5 separate regions of the Homo sapiens genome follow, and regions 1, 2, 4 and 5 are each linked to region 3. The links come from fine-mapping of genetic effects on gene expression. A gene starts in region 3. Each other region holds a variant in brackets. All regions are shown on one strand. Distances are between the middles of the regions.

Region 1 (4,117 bases), 27 kb after region 3:
GGGCAGGGATGAGCACTGAGACCCCATTGCTGTTTCCCAGAGATGCAGTCGTCGTCCACACATGAACATCTGCTGCTGGCTGGGCACGGTGGCTCACGCTTGTAATCCCAGCCCTTTGGGAAGCTGAGGCAGGCGGATCACCTGAGGTCAGGAGTTCGAGACCAGCCTGGTCAACATGATGAAACCCTGTCTCTACTAAAAATCCAAAAATTAGCTGGGCATGGTGGCAGGCACCTGTAATTCCAGCTACTTGGGAGGCTGAGGCAGGAGAATCGCTTGAACGGGGGAGGCAGAGGTCACAGTGAGCCGAGATGGTGTCATTGCACTCCAGCCTGGGTGACAGAGTGAGACTCTGTCTCAGAAAAAAAAAAAAACCAAAAATCTGCTGCTCAGTTTGCCTGTTTTTGTTTTTTGTTTTTTTCTTAATAGAACTTGTCAGTGTTTCCAAATCAGCACACATAGATCTACAGCGGTCTTTTTTGTTTCCCTCCAGTGGCTTTGTTCATTCACGTTTGGAGTAAGTGCTTGCAGGCCCTGCTAAGTGCTGATCACGGGGACATTGTCAGTAGATACATTGCTACAACTGTGAGCATTTTGTTTATAAGGAGCCAGTTCACAAAAATTAGCCGTCGGGTGCCTGTAGTCCCAGCTACTCAGGAGGCTGAGGCTGGAGAATTGCTTGAACCCAGGAGGCAGAGGTTGCAGTGAGCCGAGATTGTGCCATTGCACTCCAGCCTGGGAGACCAGAGCGAAACTCCGTCTCAAAAAAAAAGGAGCGGGTTAATTTGCCACGCAGTGTTTTCTTGTCATTATTTCATAAGCATAGATGGAAATTTAGGTGGCCTTCACTTTTTCTATTTCATGCAGTTTTACATGTGCACTTAAAAACACTTGTGTTGGCCAGGCACGGTGGCTCACGCCTGTAATCCCAGCACTTCGGGAGGCTGAGGCAGGTAGATCACCTGAGGTCACGAGTTCAAGACCAGCCTAACCAACATGGCAAGACCCCATCTCTACTAAAAATAGAAAAATTAGCTGGGCCTGGTCGTGGGTGCCTGTAATCCCAGCTATTTGGGAAGCTGAGGCAGGAGAATCACTAGAACCTGGGAGGTGGAGGTTGCAGTGAGCCAAGATGGCATCGTTGCATTCCAGCTTGGGCGACAGAGTGAGAATCCATCTCAAAAAAAAAAAAAAAAAGAAAACCCAAAAAACAAAAAAACAAAAAACACTTGTGTGAAAGGTGGGGAACAGAGGCTCACGCCTGTAATCCCAGCAGTTTGGGAGGCCAAAGTGGGAGGACTGAGCCAGGGAGGTCAAGGCTGCAGTGAGCCCTGATCATGGTGCTGCATGCACTCTAGCCTGGGCAACAGAGCAAGACCCTATCTCAAAAACAAGGACAAAAAAGTAAAACTGCTTGTGTGAATGTGTCTGTAGGATAAACACCAGCAGGGGAAATTGCTGGATCCAAGGTCTGGACAGACAGGACTTCCGTGGAGGGCTTTATGTGATGTAAGAAGAGTCCAATTCTGAATTCCAGGTTTTCTTAGGGAACATTTGGACACCTTCTTTGACCCTCCCCTGCCGGCTGAGAAGGCAGAAGCAATCAGGAAGATAGGCTTTGGGACCAACAACAAAATCTTCCTGGAGTTTGAGGAGCCCTTCTGGGAGCCAGACTGCCAGCTGATCCAGCTGGTGTGGGAGGACACGTCGCCCCTGGAGGATGCTGCCCCTGAGCTACAGGACGCCTGGTTCCGGAAGCTCATTGGCTTTGTGGTCCTGCCTGCCTTTGCGTACGTTTGCTCCCTGAGAAGTTCTGCGAGTGGCTGGCTCATAGGCCTTCATCTGATGGAGGACGCAGCAGTGTGTCTGTTCACTGCAGGGTATTTCTAGGGGGTTTAATGGGTAGGGTTCCCATGAGCGCCCCCCCACCAGGTGCTGGCTGCACCTGGGCCTGACCCCTGCGGGGACAGATGGCGCCCTGCTGTATG[C/T]GGGTTGTCAGCGTCCCTCAGGGCCCAGAATGTGTTTGTAGACTTGCAGGCAGGCTCAGTCTTCAGTCAGTGGGAACGTGTTTACTGGAATGTTGCAGGGAGCTGGGGCTTGTAGATACAGAAGAACTTTGAAACACCATCTGCCCATACGTGGGGAGACAATACTTAAATGGGATGAAATAATTGAAGGAAACATTCCGAGAAGTAATGGAATGGGAGACCCACAGAGGAAGGGCTCCCTTGTATGGGCTGGCCCTCTTAGAAACAGCATATCTAGACCACGTGGCGATTCAGGAGTTAATCCCATGAGTGATGTGGGGATGGAGGGACTGACTTTTCCAGCAAGATTAAAACACAAAGACAGCCTGATATAGTCAGATGGCAGAAATAATTCCACGTTTCCACTGAGAGATGCCGCAGGAGGGGGCACCAAGTTCTTGTTCTGAAAGACCCGGGATGGGGTGGGATGTAGGGCATGCCTGCCAGATGGTTCATAGTTGCCATCCACTGGGAGCAGGAGGCTGCAGGCTGCAGACCAGCCCTGCACCTGTGACGGGGGAAGCCTGTGTGTCTCCTTCACACTGAAGAGAAAACTGGCATTTCGGCCAGGCGCGGTGGCTCATGTCTGTAATCCCTGCACTTTGGGAGGCTGAGGCGGGTGGATCACCTGAGGTCAGGAGTTCGAGACCAGCCTGGCCAACATGATGAAACCCCGTCTCTACTAAAAATACAAAAAATTAGCCGGTGTGGTGGCACGCACCTGTAATCACAGCTACTCAGGAGGCTGAGGCAGGACAATCGCTTGAACCTGGGAGGCAGAGGTTGCAGTGAGCTGAGATTGTGCCACTGCACTCCAGCCTTGGCAACAAGAGCAAAACTCTGTCTAAAAAAAAAAAGAAAGAAAACTGGCATTCCAGGTGTTGAGATAGGCCTGGGTTGCTGGTGGGCAGCCGGGTGGGTGACTGTGTGTAGAGCCACCTGCTCCAGGCCCAGCCCCACCTCCTGTGCTCTCTTGCTTAGGACATCAGTGGGACCCTGAGTGCTTTGGTGGGACCCTGTCTGTGGCACGGGGTGGTAGCTGTCCCATCCTTTTATATACCTGCAAAGGGTTGGGGATCTCAAAGAGCTTTTGTTTATGTGAGTCACATCTGTAAATTTACCCCATGATAAATAAAATATTTTTTTGTTTTTGAGATGGAGTCTCGCTCTGTCCCCCAGACTGGAGTGCAGTGGTGCAATCTTGGCTCACTGCAAGCCCCACCTCCTGGGTTCACGCCATTCTCCTGCCTCAGCCTCCTGAGTAGCTGGAACTACAGGCACCCACCACCACGCCCGGCTAATTGTTTGTATTTTTAGTAGAGACAGGGTTTCACCGTGTTAGCCAGGATGGTCTCGATCTCCTGACCTCGTGATCCGCCCGCCTCGGCCTCCCAAAGTGCTGGGATTACAGGCATGAGCCACCGCACCCAGTCACCACATGATAAATTAAATTATTATTTGAGATGATAGTAACAAACCTATTCTATGTTAGCATAAATAACATTTTTAAATGAATATTTTCTTAAAATTTAATGAAGGGTGGCAGCAGTTTTGTCTTTTCTGCAAAACTTTTTTTTTTTTTTTTTGAGACAAGGTCTCTCTGTCACCCAGGCTGGAATGCATGGAATGCAGTGGCGTGATCTCAGCTCACTGCAACCTCTGCCTCTTGGGTTCAAGCGATTTTCCTGCCTCAGCCTCCCGAGTAGCTGGGATTATAGGTGTGTGCCACCATGCCCAGCTAATTTTTGTAGTTTTAGTAGAGACAGGGTTTTGCCATGTTGGCCAGGCTGGTCTCGAACTCCTGGCCTCAAGTGATCCGCCCACCTTGGCCTCCCAAAGTGCTGGGATTACAGGTGTGAGCCACCACGCCCGGCCTTTTCTGCAAAACTCTTCAGTGTTACACTTAATAGAAGACATCTGGGTTCTCAGGCCTCCTCTGCATTCATTCTGTGGTGATGTTTTATTTTGGTTGAAACATAGGAAGAAAATGTGGATCTACATGGATATGTGGTTGGAAGAAGGAGTGATATTTGTTTATTTATGAGATGGAGTTTTGCTTTTGTCGCCCAGGCTGGAGTGTAATAGCTCGA
Region 2 (4,117 bases), 42 kb before region 3:
TGTGTTGAGTCAGGTGCGGAGTGGTTATTGTTACCCATGGGTATTCTGTTTTCCACCCTCAGTTTTCAGGAAGATTTATAAAGTCCTGGCACCCCTCAGAGGTGGGTGATGGGGTAGGATACAGCACTCCACCTCGTCCCGGACCTCCTGGCTTTGGGAGCCACACCCAGTTGTCCTTGCCACACCACTTAGGGAGTAGACCTGGTGGGGGTAGGATCTGATGCCCACAGGGAGGGGCACTGGCTCTGGGGGCATGGGGTGCTTGGGGGTGTGTGGGATGCTGGGGGAGTGGGGGGTGCTGCCCCAGAGGGTGCAGGATCCATCACTAGTGCCAGCGGGGACCACAGAGCCTGCATCAGGAAATGCAGGCCAGGAGATTGGGGCTGGCATTGGATTGCAGAGATACACTGGGGGCAGTGTGTCCTGGAGAAATCACTCTGTTTTGATAAAATTAGGGCGCTCAGAGACTCCCGACCACGTCTTCCTCCAGCGGCCCTGTTCCCACAGCATGTGATATAGGCGGCAAGCCACCCAGGTGCCAAGGCAAGAGAACGAGGGCACGAGCTGTTCCAGTATAACAAATATATAAAATAACAGGAGTTATACTAGATATATGTCATAGATATGATTATATATGTATCACTAATCATTAGTTTGTAGTAATTATTCTTTATTCCAATATTATAATAATCCTCACTCTACAATCATAACCTAGGAAAAACCAGGCCATACGGAAATAGGAGCTGAGGGGACATAGTGAGAAGTGACCAGAAGACAAGAGTGTGAGCCTTCTGTCATGCCCGGACAGGGCCACCAGAGGGCTCCTTGGTCTAGCGGTGACGCCAGCGTCTGGGAAGATGCCCGTCGCCAAGCGGACCGTAGTCTAGTGGTAACGTCAGTGCAAAGGAAAAGCACCTGCTACTTAGCAGACTGGGAGAGGGAGTCTCCCTTTCCCTGGGGGAGTTTAGAGAAGACTCTACTCCTCCACCTCTTGTGGAAGGCCTGATATCAGTCAGGCCCGCCCGCAGCCATCTGGAGGCCTAACCGTCTCCCTGTGATGCTGTGCTTCAGTGGTCACACTCCTAGTCCGCTTTCATGTTCCATTCTGTACACCTGGCTCTGCACTTTAGATAGCAGTAGCAAAATTAGTGAAAGTACTAAAAGTCTCTGATATGCAGAAGTAATGGCGTAAGCTGCCTCTCTCTCTCTGCCTCTCTGCCTTGGCTGCCAAATGACGAAGGGCCCCCTGTCCAGTGGACACGTGACACACGTGACCTTACCTATCATTGGAGATGACTCACACTCTTTACCCTGCCCCCTTGTCTTCTATCCAATAAAAGTGCAGCCTGGCATTCTGGGCCGCTACCGGTCTCCGCGTCTTGGTGGTAGTGGTCCCCCGGGCCCAGCTGTCTTTTATCTCTTTGTCTTGCGTCTTTATTTCTACGATCTCTTGTCTCTGCACACGGGGAGAAAAACACACAGACCCTGTGGGGCTGGTCCCTTCATGTGACTGGTGTGCTCCTGGCCCCCTGCCCCTGGCATTGCCTCACAGCCCACTCCTTTTGGGGCTCTGGGTCTGGCTGGAGGCAGTGGGTGGTCATCTGCAGCTGCTGCCCAGCTCCACAGGATGATGCTGAGAGCTCTCCAGCAACCTGGAGTCAAGGAATCTCAAGGGCCTCAGGTTCAGAGCTGACATGGCACAGTG[C/T]TTCGTGCTCTGAAAACTGAAGGCAGGTTCCCAAGCACTCAAGGGAAGACACTAAAGCCTGAAGCCCAGGCCTGGGTGCATCAGTGAAGAGAGGTTTCACACGCACATGTGTGGGGTGGGAGATGAGCACTGGCCGAGGGTGGCTGTGGTGGGGCCGCCCGGGGCCTGTCGGCTGCTTGAGAAAGCACAACACAAGAAAAATGCAAACACGCAGATTTACTGCTGGTTCTCCATCTCCCTGAGAAGATCCTGCCCCAGCCCGTTGAATCCTCTGGCTCTTGCGTGAGCTCCCTGCACAAGGCCAGCAGCACAGCCCTGGCGGCAGCGCTCCACGAGGATGTATTAGCCCTTTCCACAACAGCAGATTCTGCTAAAACTCTTTTGTTCACAGCAGGACTGTTCTATACCCTTCGGGGACTGTTGGTCCTGGCTTCCAATCCTAGCTTCATCTCTGCCTGGAAGCGATTTGTTTATTCTGTCTCAGTTTTTCTTCTGACAAGTGGGGAGTGTAAAACTTCGGTATGAAGAATGTTACTGTTTTGTTTCAAAGCCAGCATCATAACTGTACGTGGGCTGCATCCGTTTCTAAGAAGATACTCATGTTTCTTTTCTTTCTTTCTTCTTTTTTTTTTTTTTTTTTTTTTTTTTTTTTTTTGAGGCAGGCTCGCTCTTCTTGCCCAGGCTGGAGTGCAGTGGCATCATCCTGGCTCACTGCAACCTCTGCCCCCTGAGTTCAAGCGATTCTCCTGCCTCAGCCTCCTGAGTAGCTGGAATTACAGACACACAACATCGTACCCAGCTACTTTTTGTATTTTTAGTAGATACAGGGTTTCACTATGTTGGCCAGGCTGGTCTCGAACTCCTGACCTCAGGTGATCTGCCTGCCTCAGCCTCCCAAAGTGCTGGGATTACAGTCATGAGCCACCACGCCCGGCAGAGATGCTCGTGTTTCAGCTGCAAGACCTGTGAGAGCTGAAGCCAGCTGGACTTCCTGGGTCGAGTGGGGACTTGGAGAACTTTTGTGTAGCTAGCTAGAGGTTTGTAAAATGCACCAATCAGGGCTCTGTAAAAATGCACCAATCAATGCTCTGTAGCTAGCTAGAAGTGTTTAAAATGGGCCAATCAGCACACTGTAAAATGGACCAATCAACACCCTGTAAAATGGACCAGTCAGCGGGACATGGGCAGGGACAAATAAGGGAATAAAAGCTGCCCCTTCCAACACACACACACAACCCCCTCCGCCACCCAGCCAGCAGTGGTGACCCTCTGCTGTTCACAATAACTTTTGCTGCTGCTCACTCTTTGGGTCCATGCCATCTTTAAGAGCTGTAACACTCACCACGAAGATCCGCAGTTCCATTCTTGAAGTCAGCAAGACCACGAACCCACTGGAAGGAACCAACTCCCGACACACCTGGAAGTGGCTTCCAGGTTGCAGCTGTCAAGAGGACTCAGACAAGGCACAGGATGGAACAACTGCACTCCCCAGACACAGAGACGGAAAGGCCACACACCCCCAAGACATAGAGATGGAAAGGCCACACACCCCGAAGACATAGAGATGGAAAGGCCACACCCCCCTCCCTGGACACAGAGATGGAAAGGTCGCACCCCCCTACCAAACACAGAATGGAACAGCCACACCCCCGCTTAGGACACAGAGATAGGAAGGCCGCACCACCCCTCCCCCCGACCTGGACACAGAGATGGAAAGACCACACTCCCCAAGACACAGAGATGGAAAGACCATACCCCCCCAGGACACAGCGATGGAAAGACCACCCCCCCCCCCCCCCCCCCCACACACACACACACACACAAACAGATGGAAAGACTGCACCCTGCCACAGGACACAGAGATGGAAAGACCACACCCACCCCCCAGACACAGAGATGGAAAGACCACCCCCGCAAGACACAGAGATGGAAAGACCGCACCCCCCCAGACAGAGAGATGGAAAGACCACACCCCCCACAACAGGACACAGAGATGGAAAGACCACACCCACCCCAGACAAAGAGATGGAAAGACTGCACCCCCCACCAACACAGAGATGGAAAGACTGTATCCCCAAACACAGAGATGGAAAGACCGCACCCCCCCTCCCCCAGGACACAGAGATGGAAAGACCACACCCCCTCCAGACGCAGAGATGGAAAGACCACACCCCCCCCAGACGCAGAGATGGAAAAACCGCACCCCGCCACACACAGAGATGGAAAGACTGCACCCCCCCTTCCCAAGGACACAGAGATGGAAAGACCGCACCCCACCCCAGACACACAGATGGAAAGGCCTCACCCCCCCAGGACACAGAGATGGAAAGACCACACCCTCCCTCCCCCAGGACACAGAGATGGAAAGGCCGCACCGCCCCCAGGACACAGAGATGGGAAGACCACACCCCC
Region 3 (4,117 bases):
CCTTCACCCACTTGATGCTCAGGCAAATGGGGGCCCTGCCCCCCCGAAATTCCTCCCTGGTCTCTCCACTCTGTGGGACGTCTAGCCTCAGCCAGGCAGAAGCTGAGAAGAGGGTAGGGGCAGCTCCTGAGGCCCCCCGGTGGGGATGGGGGCAGCTCCTGAGGCCCCAGTGGGGATGGGGCAGGTCTGAGCCAGCTGGAACTCACCCCGTTGCCACAACAGCAAAAGCCTTCTTAGCCCGTTCATAAAACTCAAACCTCTCTATCTTTGCCAGGGCTCTCTGGAAGACAAAATGGCAGGGTTGGAGGGAACCCTGCCAAGAAACCCTCATGGGCCAGCCCTGGACTCCCCAGGGCCCAAAGCAGGGAGGGCACCAGGAAGTGGGGTTCCATTTCTTGGGCTCTCCCCCGGCAAGGGCCCCACGGTCACTCAGCCTCTGGCTCCCAAGGCCTAGGACAGGGGGTCCCAGGACATGGTGGACGAGGAACCTGCCATGCTTGGGTCTCTGCCTGACCTGGGGCCACCCAGACAGCTCAGTAGACTGTCGAGCCCCTGCCAGCTGTCCTGGGGGGAGTCCCCTGCCCAGGACAAGAGCCCCTGGCCCCCCTTATGGAGGCCCTGCTCAAGACCTGCCAGTGGGTTGCCCAGGAAAATGGGCCTGTCCCCTTGCAGGGCAAGGTGTGGAGAGGGCTGAGTGAGACACAGCACCCAGCTAAGCCTCTGACCAACCATAGCCAGGATGGGGCGAGAGACCTGGGACCAGGGGGCACCCCTCCAGGGGAGATTGAGGAGGTGGAGGCCAGGCATCCTGAGTCCCCCAGGCTCCACTCACAGGCTGTGGTGGGTGACAACCCACCTGGCAGGTCAGGATCCTGGGCGGGGCAGGGCAGGTGGAAAGCTCGGGGGCAGAGGAAGAGGGGCCACACTGCCCAGGTGCACCTCTTCCACCTGGCTGGTGAAGGAGTGCCAGTGGTCCGGGGTTCTCAGGGTGATGGGTGGGAGACCACTTGAGGACAGAGCTTGGGACCCTCTGTCTTTGGCTCCTCCTGAGCCTCCAGGAGACAGAGGGTCCCTGGCCTTTTCCCCACAACTGGGGCTGCAGGCTTACCACACAGCCGGCCCTGCGTAGGATGGACTCGTACTCCGTCCACACTGGGGTCTGCAGGCCCCTCTCCTTGTCGCTGGGCACCAGCTCCATGACTGCAGCCTAGAGGGAGGGGTCAGCTCTGGGGCCCTGGGCACTGCCAGCCTTCCTGGTCAGGTGACCATTCGGGACTCCCCTGGTGAGGGTCAGGGCCCCTTTGGGGACACATGGCTTCCCCCCACTCCAAGGCAGGTGGGCCCTATGAAGCCCGCAAAAGGGGAAACTGAGGCACGGAGCAGCAGGGTGCAGGGGCGACTCAGCCCTCACCGGACTCTCCACATAGGTGTCCAGGGGCAGCAGCTTCAGCACGGCCTCCAGGAGCTGCGGGATGCCCAGGCCTGGAGGGCAGAGGAGGCAGCACTCAGTCTCCAGCCCGCCCGCCCGCCTGCCTGTCTGCACCCTTCACACTGCAAGCATGGACTTGGGGCCACGGCAGGCCACAGAGGAGCCTCAGAGCCAGGAGCACCGCTCACCCGCCCGCCCTGCCCTGGGGGACCTGGGGCTCGCTCACCGTCTGCACGGATCTCCATGGGCCCACACTGGCAGATGGAGGAGGCCGGGAAGTTCAAGTCCGCAAGAACTAAACAGCCGGGAGGACAGCCCGTGTCGGCACCTATCCCTGCCCTCGGGGTCGGCGCCGCCCGTCCTCCCACCCAGTCATGGCGGCAGATCGTGGGTCACAAGAGGTCTCAGGTCAGCCAGTTGGGCGCCCCCACCGCCGACCGGCCGCAGTCAGATCCGCAGGGCTGGAAGCCACGCGGGGAGGTGGGGAGGGCAAGGTCCCTGCCTGGGAGGCAGAGAGGCGTCAACAGCTGCCCGCGAGGCTGTCGGGTGCTGACCAGGCCAGGGGGCCGACCCGGACCCGGCCGCCTCCCCAGGGGCCAGAGGACGCGCGGCTGCCCGCGATGCCCGGACCAGGCCCCCGGCCACCCAACCCCTGCCCCGGGACCCCAGGCCCCAGGAGAAGAAAAAGCGCCGAACCCTCGGGGGCAGCCCAGACGCGAGGGCTCTCGGGCCGTCTGGGGAGGGACTCCGGGAGAAGCTCGGGCCGGCTCCGCCCAGAGCCCCACGAGGTCTCAGTTCCCTAAAGAATGCGGGGGAGGGGGCTTCCTGCCCGGAAGCCAGGGAGGCCCGAGCAACGCCCACACCCCAGGACGCGGCCCTTCCCGGCCCGGGGGTCCCCGTGCAAGCCTCGCCCTCCTGCCTGTCCCGGGGTGCTCCCCGAGGCCCCGGCCCGCTGCGCTCACCGATCTCGTCCCCGTGCCCCATCCGCGCCAGCGCGTAGAGCAGCTCGGGGGACAGCAGTGCGGGGACACCCTTCAGCGCCACCATGGCCCGGCAGACGGGGCGGGCGGGGCCTAGGGGCGGGGCTTGGGGGCCGGGGCGGGGCCTTACGGGGAGGGCGGGGCTTGGGGGCAGAGGCGGGGGCCTTACGGGGAGGGCGGGGCTTAGGGGCAGAGGCGGGGCTTTACGGGGAGGGCGGGGCTTTATTGGAGGGCGGGGCTTTAGGGTCCCGGGCTTGGGGCTTGGGGACGGGCCGGGCCTAGGGTTCGGCGGGCTGGGGTCCGCTTGCGGCTCAAGGAAGGGCGGGGAGCCCCAGGAACTGGGGACGTGCGGGCTGAGTCGTGGCGTGGGGGCAACACCCAGCCAGCCCACGGGCTCCTCGCCAGGTCCGAGACTCGGGTGCCCTTGCGCTGTGGCCGGGGGCTCCCCAGTGTCCCTACCCGAGCCTCCCACCCCGAGCTCCCTCAGGCCGAAGGGGTTCAACCGCCGCGGCCTCCCCTCATGAGGGTCTCTGCCCTCTGACCACTTCGTGCTGCCCTTAGGCCTGGCAGAATGCCCGGAGCGCACCGGGTCCCTGGGGTCACCATGGTGGGTAGCTGGACCCAGGCCTTCAGCCCACGCTCCTGAGGGACCGGGAGCAAGGGACACGGGAGCCAGGACTTCGGACCCCCTTGGGGGGAGTCCAGGAGGGCAGCCAGGCCCAGCTTCCAGGCTCAGCTGCGAAGTGCCAGGACACCTAAGGGTCCTCCATCATCCCCCGGTGTCAGCGGCCTGCAACCCCCTGCCCAGGATGGCGGCATCCTGACCTTTGGCTGAGCTCAGGCTGGCCAGGCCCTCCCTCCGCGGAACCACCTTCTTCCACATGATTCCCAGCTGGACACCAGCTGTGGGGCTAGCACTGCGGCCCTGGCCCTCAGCCCTGAGGTGACACAAATGCTCTGAGGCCTGGCGGCTCCTAAAAAGTTCTGAAAATCAATCTGTATGTGAAAAATGACAAAGCCGCGTCAGAAAACCAGGAGGAAACAGACGTCTCCATGTTGAACTGCTTGGCCCTAGGAGCCTGTCCCCATGGGAAGTGGCCTGGGCTGCGTCGGAAAAGCCTGGTGGGGCCACCCAGGCTGGCACCCAGCAGCACCTGAACAGCTGGCCCTGGGCCGGCCACTCGGGCAGAGAGAAGACCGGGGCTGCCCAGGGCCTGCCAATGAGGGGTGGCTTTGCACCGAGGCCACCGGGTTTCAGAGCTGTACCTGGGCAGTTTCTACTCCAACTTGTAAGTGGAGAGTCACCGTTTACCCAAATATACAAGGGCAAGAGGATTTTATAGAGATGGGCAAGAAAGTTTTCAGCTTCAAAACCAAATCAGGCCGGGCGCGGTGGCTCACACCTGTGATCCCAGCACTTTGGGAGGCCGAGGCGGGCGGATCACTTGAGGTCAGGGGTTGGAGACCAGCCTGGCCAACATGGTGAAACCCCGTCTCTTCAAAATATACAAAAATTAGCCAGGCATGGTGACTGGTGCCTGTAATCCCAGCTACTTGGGAGGCTGAGGCACGAGAATTGCTTGAACCCGGGAAGCGGAGGGTGCAGTGAGCCGAGATCACTCCACTGCTCTCCAGCCTGGGTGACAGAAAGTGACTCCGTCTCAAAAAAAAAAACAAAACCAACAAAGAAAAAACACCTAATCAAACC
Region 4 (4,087 bases), 35 kb after region 3:
CGTTTTCCCGCCCGTTGGTGGATGCGTGTGAGCCGTTTTCCCGCCCGTTGGTGGATGCGTGTGAGCCGTTTTCCTGGCTGTTGATGGATACATGTGAGCTGTTTTCCTGCCCGTTGGTGGATGTGTGTGAGCTGTTTTCCTGGCTATTGGTGGGTACACGTGAGCCCTTTTCTCGTCCGTTGGTGGAGGTGTGTGAGCTGTTTTCCTGCTTCTTGGTGGATGCTTGTGAGCCATTTTCTGTGTTTCCTTGCCCAGACCCTGCTGTCTGAATTGCATCCCCATTCTAACCCTGGCTCTTCTTTGCAGCTCCAGATCCTGTTTGCGGGGGAAGCCACACATCGCACGTTTTACTCCACGACGCACGGGGCTCTGCTGTCGGGATGGAGGGAGGCCGACCGCCTCCTCAGTCTGTGGGCCCCGCAGGTGCAGCAGCCCAGGCCCAGGCTCTAGCTGGGCCCAGCCTACTCTGTTCCACCCGTGTCGGGGGTAGGCTGGGACCCTCATTTCTTCTGACAGATTTCAGTCTGGCTTGAAATTTGGGGATGTTAATGAGGGTCCTCTGGTTTTTGGTAACCAGGGCCACCTTCTCAGTTCTTGTGTCTGTTATTGGAGTCTGGCCAGGGTTGACTTGAGCTGAGACACCAGATGCTCACGGAGATGCTGGACACATAAAGCAAGTTACAGCCACAGCTCCCAGAGCCATCTTTCCTGCCTTGAGGCTGTCCTGTCCTTCCTGCCTTGGGGCTCCAGCATCTGCTGCTGTTGTCTTTGTCTTGCTCCGGGCCCAGGTTGCACAGGGCCCTGTGTCTCCAATCCCCACAACCACACATGGCCCCACACTCTGGGTTCCCTGAACTCTGGGTCCTGTAGTTGCTTCTCGTGCCCCTGCATTCTCGTGGCTGCTGCCTGGGATGACAGCATAGCTGACAACCCTCCTCTTGCTCATCAACTGATGCTGCATCAGGCGCCCACTTCACAGGTTCGCAGGGCACTGGGGAGATGAGGGGTGCCCTGCCCTGCCCTGAGGCCGGGGGTTTTCTGGAGGAAGTGAATACATAATAAGGCCTGAAAAGAGAAACGGTGCCCAGCCCATGGGAGCCAGGGAGTGTGTGGGGCGTGGGCAGTGCTGGGGTGAGTGTGCTGGGTGCTGGGGGGTGTTGGGGTGGGGGCAGTGCTGGGGTGCTGGGGGGTGTTGGGGTGTGGGTAGTGTTGGGTGCTGGGGGGTGTTGGGGTGAGTGTGCTGGGTGCCGGGGGATGTTGGGGTGTGGGCAGTGCTGGGGTACCACGTGGTATTGGGGTGAATGTGCTGGGAGTCCAGGCCCCTCTCCGGCCCCTCCACCCCAGCCTGGATCTGCAGGGCTCCTCTCTTCTCACCCTCTGGTCTCTGTTCAAATTGCCCCTCCTAGGATGTTCCCTGACCCCACCCTCCCGAGCCCCAGCCTCCCTCTGTAGCCAGCAGCCCCACCTGCATTTGCTGTGTCACCAGACTGTTCTCTCTGGGGACACCTGCCCATCAGACGCCTGGGAGAGAAATTCAGATTCCACAGGGTTTTATTGTGGTTTTGTGCTCCTAGGACCATGAGGGAATGCAGCTTCCTTAAAGTACAAAAATCTTTATCATTGACATTTAGGGTTTCATCAATTCTGTATCCCAGGGAGAAAGGCAGCAAGACCCAGGCTGCCCCCTCTGGGTGTGAGGGACCGGCTTGGTGAGGAGGGGGCTTGGGGGCATTGACCTAGCAGGAGGCCCTGACTGCCCCCACTCAGCCCAGAAACCACCTGGGAGGCTTCTGTCTTCCACGGAGGGGCCACTCTCTCATGCCCAAAAATATTTACAGCTAGGC[G/A]TTAGGGTATTAGGTGGTTTAAGAACATCAGAACCATGGCAATATTTTTGTACTTAGAATTTGAGCATGTTTGGTATTTTCAGTAGCTTGTTTAAAAAATTCCAGTAGAGGCTGGGTGCCATGGCTCATGCCTGTAATTCCAGCACTTTGGGAGGCTGAGGTGGGCAGATCACCTGAGGTCAGAGTTCGAGACTAGCCTGGCCAACATGGTGAAACCCCATCTCTACTAAAAATACAAAAAAAGTAGCCGGGCGTGGTGGTGCGCACCTGTAGTCCCAGCTACTCAGGAGGCTAAGGCAGGAGAACTGCTTGAACCCCGGGAGGCGGAGGTTGCAGTGAGCCAAGATCACGCCACTGCACTCCAGCCTGGCGACAGAGCGAGACTCCGTCTCAAAAATAAAAATTCCGGTAGAGTAATACTCTTGTAACGCAGTGTGCAATTGAGCAGTTGCTGACTGCTGATTTAGAGTTGAAATCCGACTATATTTATGTCTAGTCTTGGACAGTGGAGAATATTTCAGCCTCATTAATTAATCGGTTTAATTTAGCAGAACTGCAGTCAGTATTTGGAAACAGTTTGTTATATTAAACCCTGAAGTACTTGAGGCTGCGCGCGGTGGCTCATGCCTGTAATCCCAGCATTTTGGGAGGCCGAGACAGGTAGATCACTTGAGGTCAGGAGTTGGAGACCAGCCTGGCCAACATGGTGGAACTCCATCTCTACTAAAAATACAAAATCAGCCGGCGTGGTGGCAGGCGCCAGTAATCCCAGCTACTCCGGAGGCTGAGGTGGGAGAATCCCTTGAACTCAGGAGTTGGAGGTTGCAATGAGCGAGATCGTGCCACTGCACTCTTGGGCAACAGAGCGGAGACTCCGTCTCAAACAAAACAAAACAAACAAAAACCCTGAAGTACTTAAAAAGAAAATGAAGAGATTACATTTATAAGGTAAATTTAAAGTATTTGAGAGATTTTAACCAAATTGTAAAAAGAGATTGCTAAATTTTTACACTTATACTCAGGATATGCTTAAGGGAGAACGATGATTTTTAATATTTAATGAATGTTAATAAATCTGCGAATTACTTAAACCCACAAAACCCAGGAACCTCCCCGTCCCCCCGGGTCTCCTCGCAGTCCCGCCCCGACGCTCGACCCACCATTCGTCCCTCCCTCTGGGCCCGGGCCCCGCCCACTCCGGGCTTCGCCGGAGGCGGAGGCAACGTCGTGCGCACGCGCAGGCCGTGGTGCGGCCCCTTGGAGCGCCGGAAGCCCGCAGTGCCGGAGGCCCGCAGCGCCGGAACCTCAGAGGCGGGTCGCAGCGGCGCAGAGGAGGTCAGCTGCGGGAGCGTTTCCGGGGACGGTGCCGCCATGAGATTGACCCCGCGCGCGCTGTGCAGCGCCGCCCAGGCCGCCTGGCGGGAGAACTTCCCCCTGTGCGGTCGCGACGTGGCGCGCTGGTTCCCGGGCCACATGGCCAAGGGTGAGGCACGGCGGGGAGGGGCAAGGTCATGCCTACGGCCGCGGCGCCTCTGCTTCCCTCCCACCCCGGTTTCGGCCGTCGCCTGCTTCTCCCGGTCGTTCTGGGCTGGCCCCGCCCCTCCTCCCTTGTCTCCCCTCCTTCCCCGCTCTCACCCGCTCCCGGAGCCGCCGGGACCCCTTCCCCTGCGCAGCTGCGGGAGAGGCCCGTTCCCGCGAGTGCCCCCGCGGCGCAGCCTCGGACCCAGGGCCTGCTTGACCTCCTACCTCTGGCCCGCCGCCCCTGTCCTCTGTTCCCAGCAAGTTCCTTCTGCCCTTTTAATCCCCCGAAGCCTCCGTTTCCACATGTTCTTGACAAGATAGACTTTTCTGAGTCTTTTGGGGACTAAATGAAACAGTGGGTATGAAGGCACCTGTTCAGTTTTAACTGGTATCTTGAGTCGTTCTCCTGCTTAACGTCTTTGGTAATTCTTACTGTTTGTCACAATTCGGCCCCAAGAAGACCTCTGGGGCCAGCCCAGCCCGTCTAGGTGTTGTGATGGCCACTCCTGCGTCGGCTCCGCGTGTACTGGGGGCCGAGGGGGAAGAAGGGCCCGTGTGGGTGACTGAGGCTGTGTCCTCGGTCTTCGGATAACACTGGAGGGGAAGAAAGCTGGAAGCTTTGTTATCTTGGTTGTGTGTGGTATTCCTGGTTAGGGGACTATCGTCATCATCCCCGCGAGGTAGCAGGGGCCTAATGAGCCAGTGTTACTCTGTGTTATAGC
Region 5 (4,117 bases), 58 kb before region 3:
TGCTGCCATCCTGGGATGGGAATATGGAGGCGGCAGCCAGTCAGCATTGAGCCTCACAACCTGAGGAAAGGCAGGCCCGGGGGAGGGCTGGGCCTGCAAAGTGTCCTGCCCAGAGGCCAGAAATAAACACATGACATACCTATCGGCAGAGCCCGGAAATCAACGCATCACGTACCTATCGGCAGAGCCCGGAAATCAACGCATCACGTACCTATCGGCAAAGCGGTGTCTGTGCTGATGCCAGCACCAATCAGGAAATCCCCGATCAGGGCAGGTCTCTCATACACCCATGCTGGGAAGATGGGGAGGTGCTGGCCTGAATTTTTTTTGTTCTGCTTGTCTCGAAGCATCTTTCTTTTAAGTTCCAGAGACTAGCAAGGACATTTTAAAAAACAAAACCAGAAAGATACACTTTAGCGCAAACACTCAACTAAAGACATGCATAGAAGCTAGCATCTACGGCAAAGATGATTACTCAATTCAACACCCACAAAGGGTCAACCACATAGAAATGAAATGCGCCTCGACATCCCTGCCTGCCACAACGTGAGGGGCTGGGGACAACAGGGCAGATGGGGAGCCCTAGCCCCTCTTCTCAGGAGTGCAGGTCCTGCAAGGGCCCCCCTGGGAAAACATGAGCACCAGCAGTGGGAACCACGGGAGAGGGTGCACCTAGGCACAGAGCCGCTGTTTCAAAGGAGGGCGCCCTGTGAACAAGCTGAATTGCTTCTTTCTGGCAGTGACTAGGTCTGAACACCACTTGATGGGTGAAGACAGGCTTCAGCAACAGACATGCATCCTTACCCTGCCGGAGAAGGGCCCCAGCGTGACAGGATGGCTCCTGACATGTGGTCAGAGAGCCTGCCCTCCTGCGCCAGTGGCCGCCAGAGGCTGATGGGGTCGGCCTGGGCTGGCCCAGCTTTCGGAAGCACTGACTCCCACTCAGGGCTGGTCAGGGACACGGGCAGATGCAAACTGTCTCTGCACGTGGCAGTAAGACCCAGTCTTCTGCCACGGCTGAGGGAGACGTGGACAGAGGCCTAGCACCATGTCCAGCACAGAACGTGCCCAGCAAGAACCGGCTGGGTCCTTGGGAGCCGCTGCACTCAACACGCACCCAGGAGGCTAGGACGCCTCAGGGACACAGCTCCAAAGGGAGTTTAAAGGTCACAAAGGCAGGAACGTGGCAGCTCTAATGAGAGAGACTGGGAGATGACTTACGTCAAAAGACCAGGGTAGGGCATAAAATCAAAACCAAGAGCAAGTAGCAAATACAGAAGGAATAATAAAAATTACTGTATTTTCGAGAATCTTGAAAATATAATGATCTGAAAGCATTCCCTCAAAATTGTCAAAAATTGGAGGAGGGAAATGGGGAGTCAGGATTGGGTAGGCTCAGAGTCACGTGGCCACCTGGCAGCACAACTCCCACGTGGGTCAGAACCTTGCTGCTATTGATTCTTGTGGTCCAGAATTCTTGGTTAAAAAAAAAACTAAACATATAGAGCTAGGTCATGATCAAGCATTAAGCCTTGGCCTCTCTAAGGGATTCATTTTCAATAAATGACAGAGAGACATGTCCTTCCAGCAGGGGCCCGGCACAGCACTGAGTGTGGGTGCCTGTGGACGCCACGGACACAGGACCTGCTGCAGCATGGAGCCTGTGGACAGCCATGGACGCAGTACCTGCTGCAGCGTGGAGCCTGTGGCCACGCTGCCAAGCTGCTTCCTCAGTTCCTCAAGCTCCTGCATGGAGATCTTGGAGGCCGCGGCAGGGACGTTGATGCTGGTGGTACTGCTGCCCACAGCAGCGGCTGCAAGCTCAGCTCTTTCTTTTGCATTCTGTTGTAAGTACTGCAGAGTCTGAAAACATGTAAAACTGTGTGTTCACACTGGGCCAGCACCTCTTTGGCCATAGGGGGAGAGTAGGGACGACACCACCAGGACGGCTCCCCAACCCTGACAGGCACCCATTAATAGCAAAGCGACGCGTGCGACAGGCAG[G/A]AACTGAGCGTGACACATGCGGGAAGCTCAAAGTGCCCCAGAGGCTGCTTCTCATGTTTACACCCAACATGGGTTATCTTTCATTCTGATTCACCAAAAATTTCCTACATGGCCTAGAAGCGTTACTGGTGTGAGCGAGGAAGAGCTGACAGGAAGATGGCGTGGAGTGAGCAGGAGACGCGACCCCACTCCCAACATGGGCCGTACGGGCGCAGTGTGGCACGTGGCATGGGCACCTACCTCTTTGTCTTCCGTGAGCTTTGACAACAGGTACACCAGCGGGTCAAGGTTCCTTGTATTTTTAGATTTCAGTTCATCATATTTCTTTAGAAAGTCTTCTGGAGTACGAGAAAACTCTGCAATTTTAACCTCAAAAGCACAAACATGAGTGATTTAATGACGGTAATTAATAAAGCACTGTAAAAAAAAACCTTTACGAAAATTGAACACAATAAGCCAATGGAATTAAATTGGGTAGGTTAAATAATTATCCCTCTGAAATAAACTAACAAAACTCATCTCCATATTGTGTTAAACTTATCCATGTTTTGAGCTAGGCAGTGGCTCATGACTGTAATCCCAGCACTTTGGGAGGCCGAGGCTGGTAGACTGCTTGAGTCCAGGAGTTCAAGACCAGCCTGGCCAAAATAACAAAACCCCATTTCTACAAAAAGATTCAAAAATTAGCGAGGCGTGGTGGCACTTGCCTGTGGTCACTACTTGGGAAGCTGAGATGGGAGGATCACATCAGCCTGGGAGGTTGAGACTGCAGTAAGACAAGATCGTGCCACATGCATTCCAGCCTGGGTGACAGAGTAAGACTCTGTCTCAAAACAAAACAAAACAAACCTTATCCGTATTTCCCATTATGGTTCCTTTCCTTTTGTGCTTCTTCGTATTATTTTAATTTTTTCTAGAGACAGGATTTCACCATGTTGCCCAGACTGCTCTCAAACTCCCAGGCTCAAGCCATCCACCTGCCTCGTCCCAAAGTGCTGGCGTTACAGGTGTGAGCCCCTGCGCCCGCCCTTTTATGCTTCTTCAGGTTTGTACTGGAGAGTAGCGACTTACACTTCCCCCCAGTAGTTTATGCGTTCATTGTATACATTTCACTGTATTCCCTTTTATGCTGCTTCAGGTTTGTACTGGAGAGTAGCAACTTGCATTTCCCCCCAGTAGTTTATGCGTTCATTGTATGCATCTCACTGTGTTCCCTTTTATGCTTCTTCAGGTTTGTACTGGAGAGTAGCGACTTACCTTTTCCCCCCAGTAGTTTATGCGTTCATTGTCTGCATCTCACTGTATTCCCCGCAGTAGTTTATGCGTTCATTGTATACACCTCACTATGTTCCCTCTGGAATTTGTTATTATGTGCAACCCTAGGGGTTATGCTTTTTCTTTTGGACGGAGTTTCGCTCTTGTTGCCCAGGCTGGAGTGCAATGGCGTGATCTAGGCTCACCGCAACCTCCACCTCCCTGGTTCAAGTAATTCTCCTGCCTCAGCCTCCTGAGTAGCTGCATTACTGGCACGCACCACCACGCCCTAATTTTTGTATTTTTAGTAGCGATGGGGTTTCTCCATGTTGGCCAGGCTGGTCTCGAACTCCCAACCTTAGGTGATCCACCCGCCTCGGCCTCCCAAAGGGCTGGGATTACAGGTGTGAGCGACCGTGCCCAGCAGGGGTTATGTTTTACTCAGTGATTTACAATGCTTCCTTCAGAATGAACTAAACATGGGTGTCCCCAAGTCTCTATTCCACTCGGCTAATTTGCCTAATTATCCTTGTGCCATTGTTAACCTGTTTAAATAACTGAAGCTTCATAATGTATTTTTTAAAATAGACTTCAAATTCAAAATCATTTTTACTGAAAATCTATACTTCTGAATTACATATTATCTGAATAAAGAAATAATACCTTAAAGGCATTTCAACATGGTTAATACCAGTCCCTCCCTTTTTTTTTTTTTTTTTTTTTTTTTTTTTTGAGACAGAGTCTCACTCTGACGCCCAGGCTGGAATGCAGTGGCACGATATCTCGGCTCACTGCAAGCTCCACCTCCCGGGTTCACGCCACTCTCCTGCCTCAGCCCCCCGAGTAGCTGGGATTACAG

Evidence for each region. PIP is the estimated chance that this variant, and not a neighbour inherited with it, causes the effect.
Region 1: its variant is fine-mapped to the expression of FUOM in whole blood (TOPMed, PIP above 0.99).
Region 2: its variant is fine-mapped to the expression of FUOM in whole blood (TOPMed, PIP above 0.99).
Region 4: its variant is fine-mapped to the expression of FUOM in whole blood (TOPMed, PIP above 0.99).
Region 5: its variant is fine-mapped to the expression of FUOM in lung (TOPMed, PIP above 0.99). The same link has a PIP of 0.9 or more in blood mononuclear cells.

The regions. Positions count from the first base shown.
Region 1 is chr10:133,382,423-133,386,539 of GRCh38, forward strand. It overlaps PAOX (polyamine oxidase), which reads left to right. Exons shown (of 7, transcript NM_152911.4): 4 at 1,538-1,790. Among named protein-coding and RNA genes, the nearest start is that of PAOX, 5.2 kb to the left of the region's middle. The variant C/T (reference allele first, on the strand shown) is at 1,989.
Region 2 is chr10:133,313,182-133,317,298 of GRCh38, forward strand. All of the region lies in intron 5 of ZNF511-PRAP1 (ZNF511-PRAP1 readthrough), which reads left to right. Among named protein-coding and RNA genes, the nearest start is that of ZNF511-PRAP1, 6.3 kb to the left of the region's middle. RefSeq lists enhancers at 886-1,155, 1,162-1,663. The variant C/T (reference allele first, on the strand shown) is at 1,706.
Region 3 is chr10:133,355,532-133,359,648 of GRCh38, forward strand. FUOM (fucose mutarotase) reads right to left here and starts at 2,488. Exons shown (of 6, transcript NM_001098483.3): 1 at 2,392-2,488; 2 at 1,656-1,724; 3 at 1,412-1,482; 4 at 1,109-1,207; 5 at 207-280. The coding sequence starts at 2,476. RefSeq lists enhancers at 505-1,239, 1,717-1,816 and silencers at 1,967-2,586, 2,637-2,716, 3,749-3,911.
Region 4 is chr10:133,391,006-133,395,092 of GRCh38, forward strand. PAOX (polyamine oxidase) reads left to right here. Exons shown (of 7, transcript NM_152911.4): 7 at 307-689. The coding sequence ends at 450. It overlaps MTG1 (mitochondrial ribosome associated GTPase 1), which reads left to right and starts at 3,152. Exons shown (of 11, transcript NM_138384.4): 1 at 3,152-3,327. The coding sequence starts at 3,216. RefSeq lists silencers at 2,944-3,293, 3,354-3,553 and an enhancer at 3,878-4,087. The variant G/A (reference allele first, on the strand shown) is at 1,845.
Region 5 is chr10:133,297,741-133,301,857 of GRCh38, forward strand. TUBGCP2 (tubulin gamma complex component 2) reads right to left here. Exons shown (of 18, transcript NM_006659.4): 3 at 2,245-2,373; 4 at 1,687-1,863; 5 at 212-371. Among named protein-coding and RNA genes, the nearest start is that of TUBGCP2, 9.1 kb to the right of the region's middle. The variant G/A (reference allele first, on the strand shown) is at 2,005.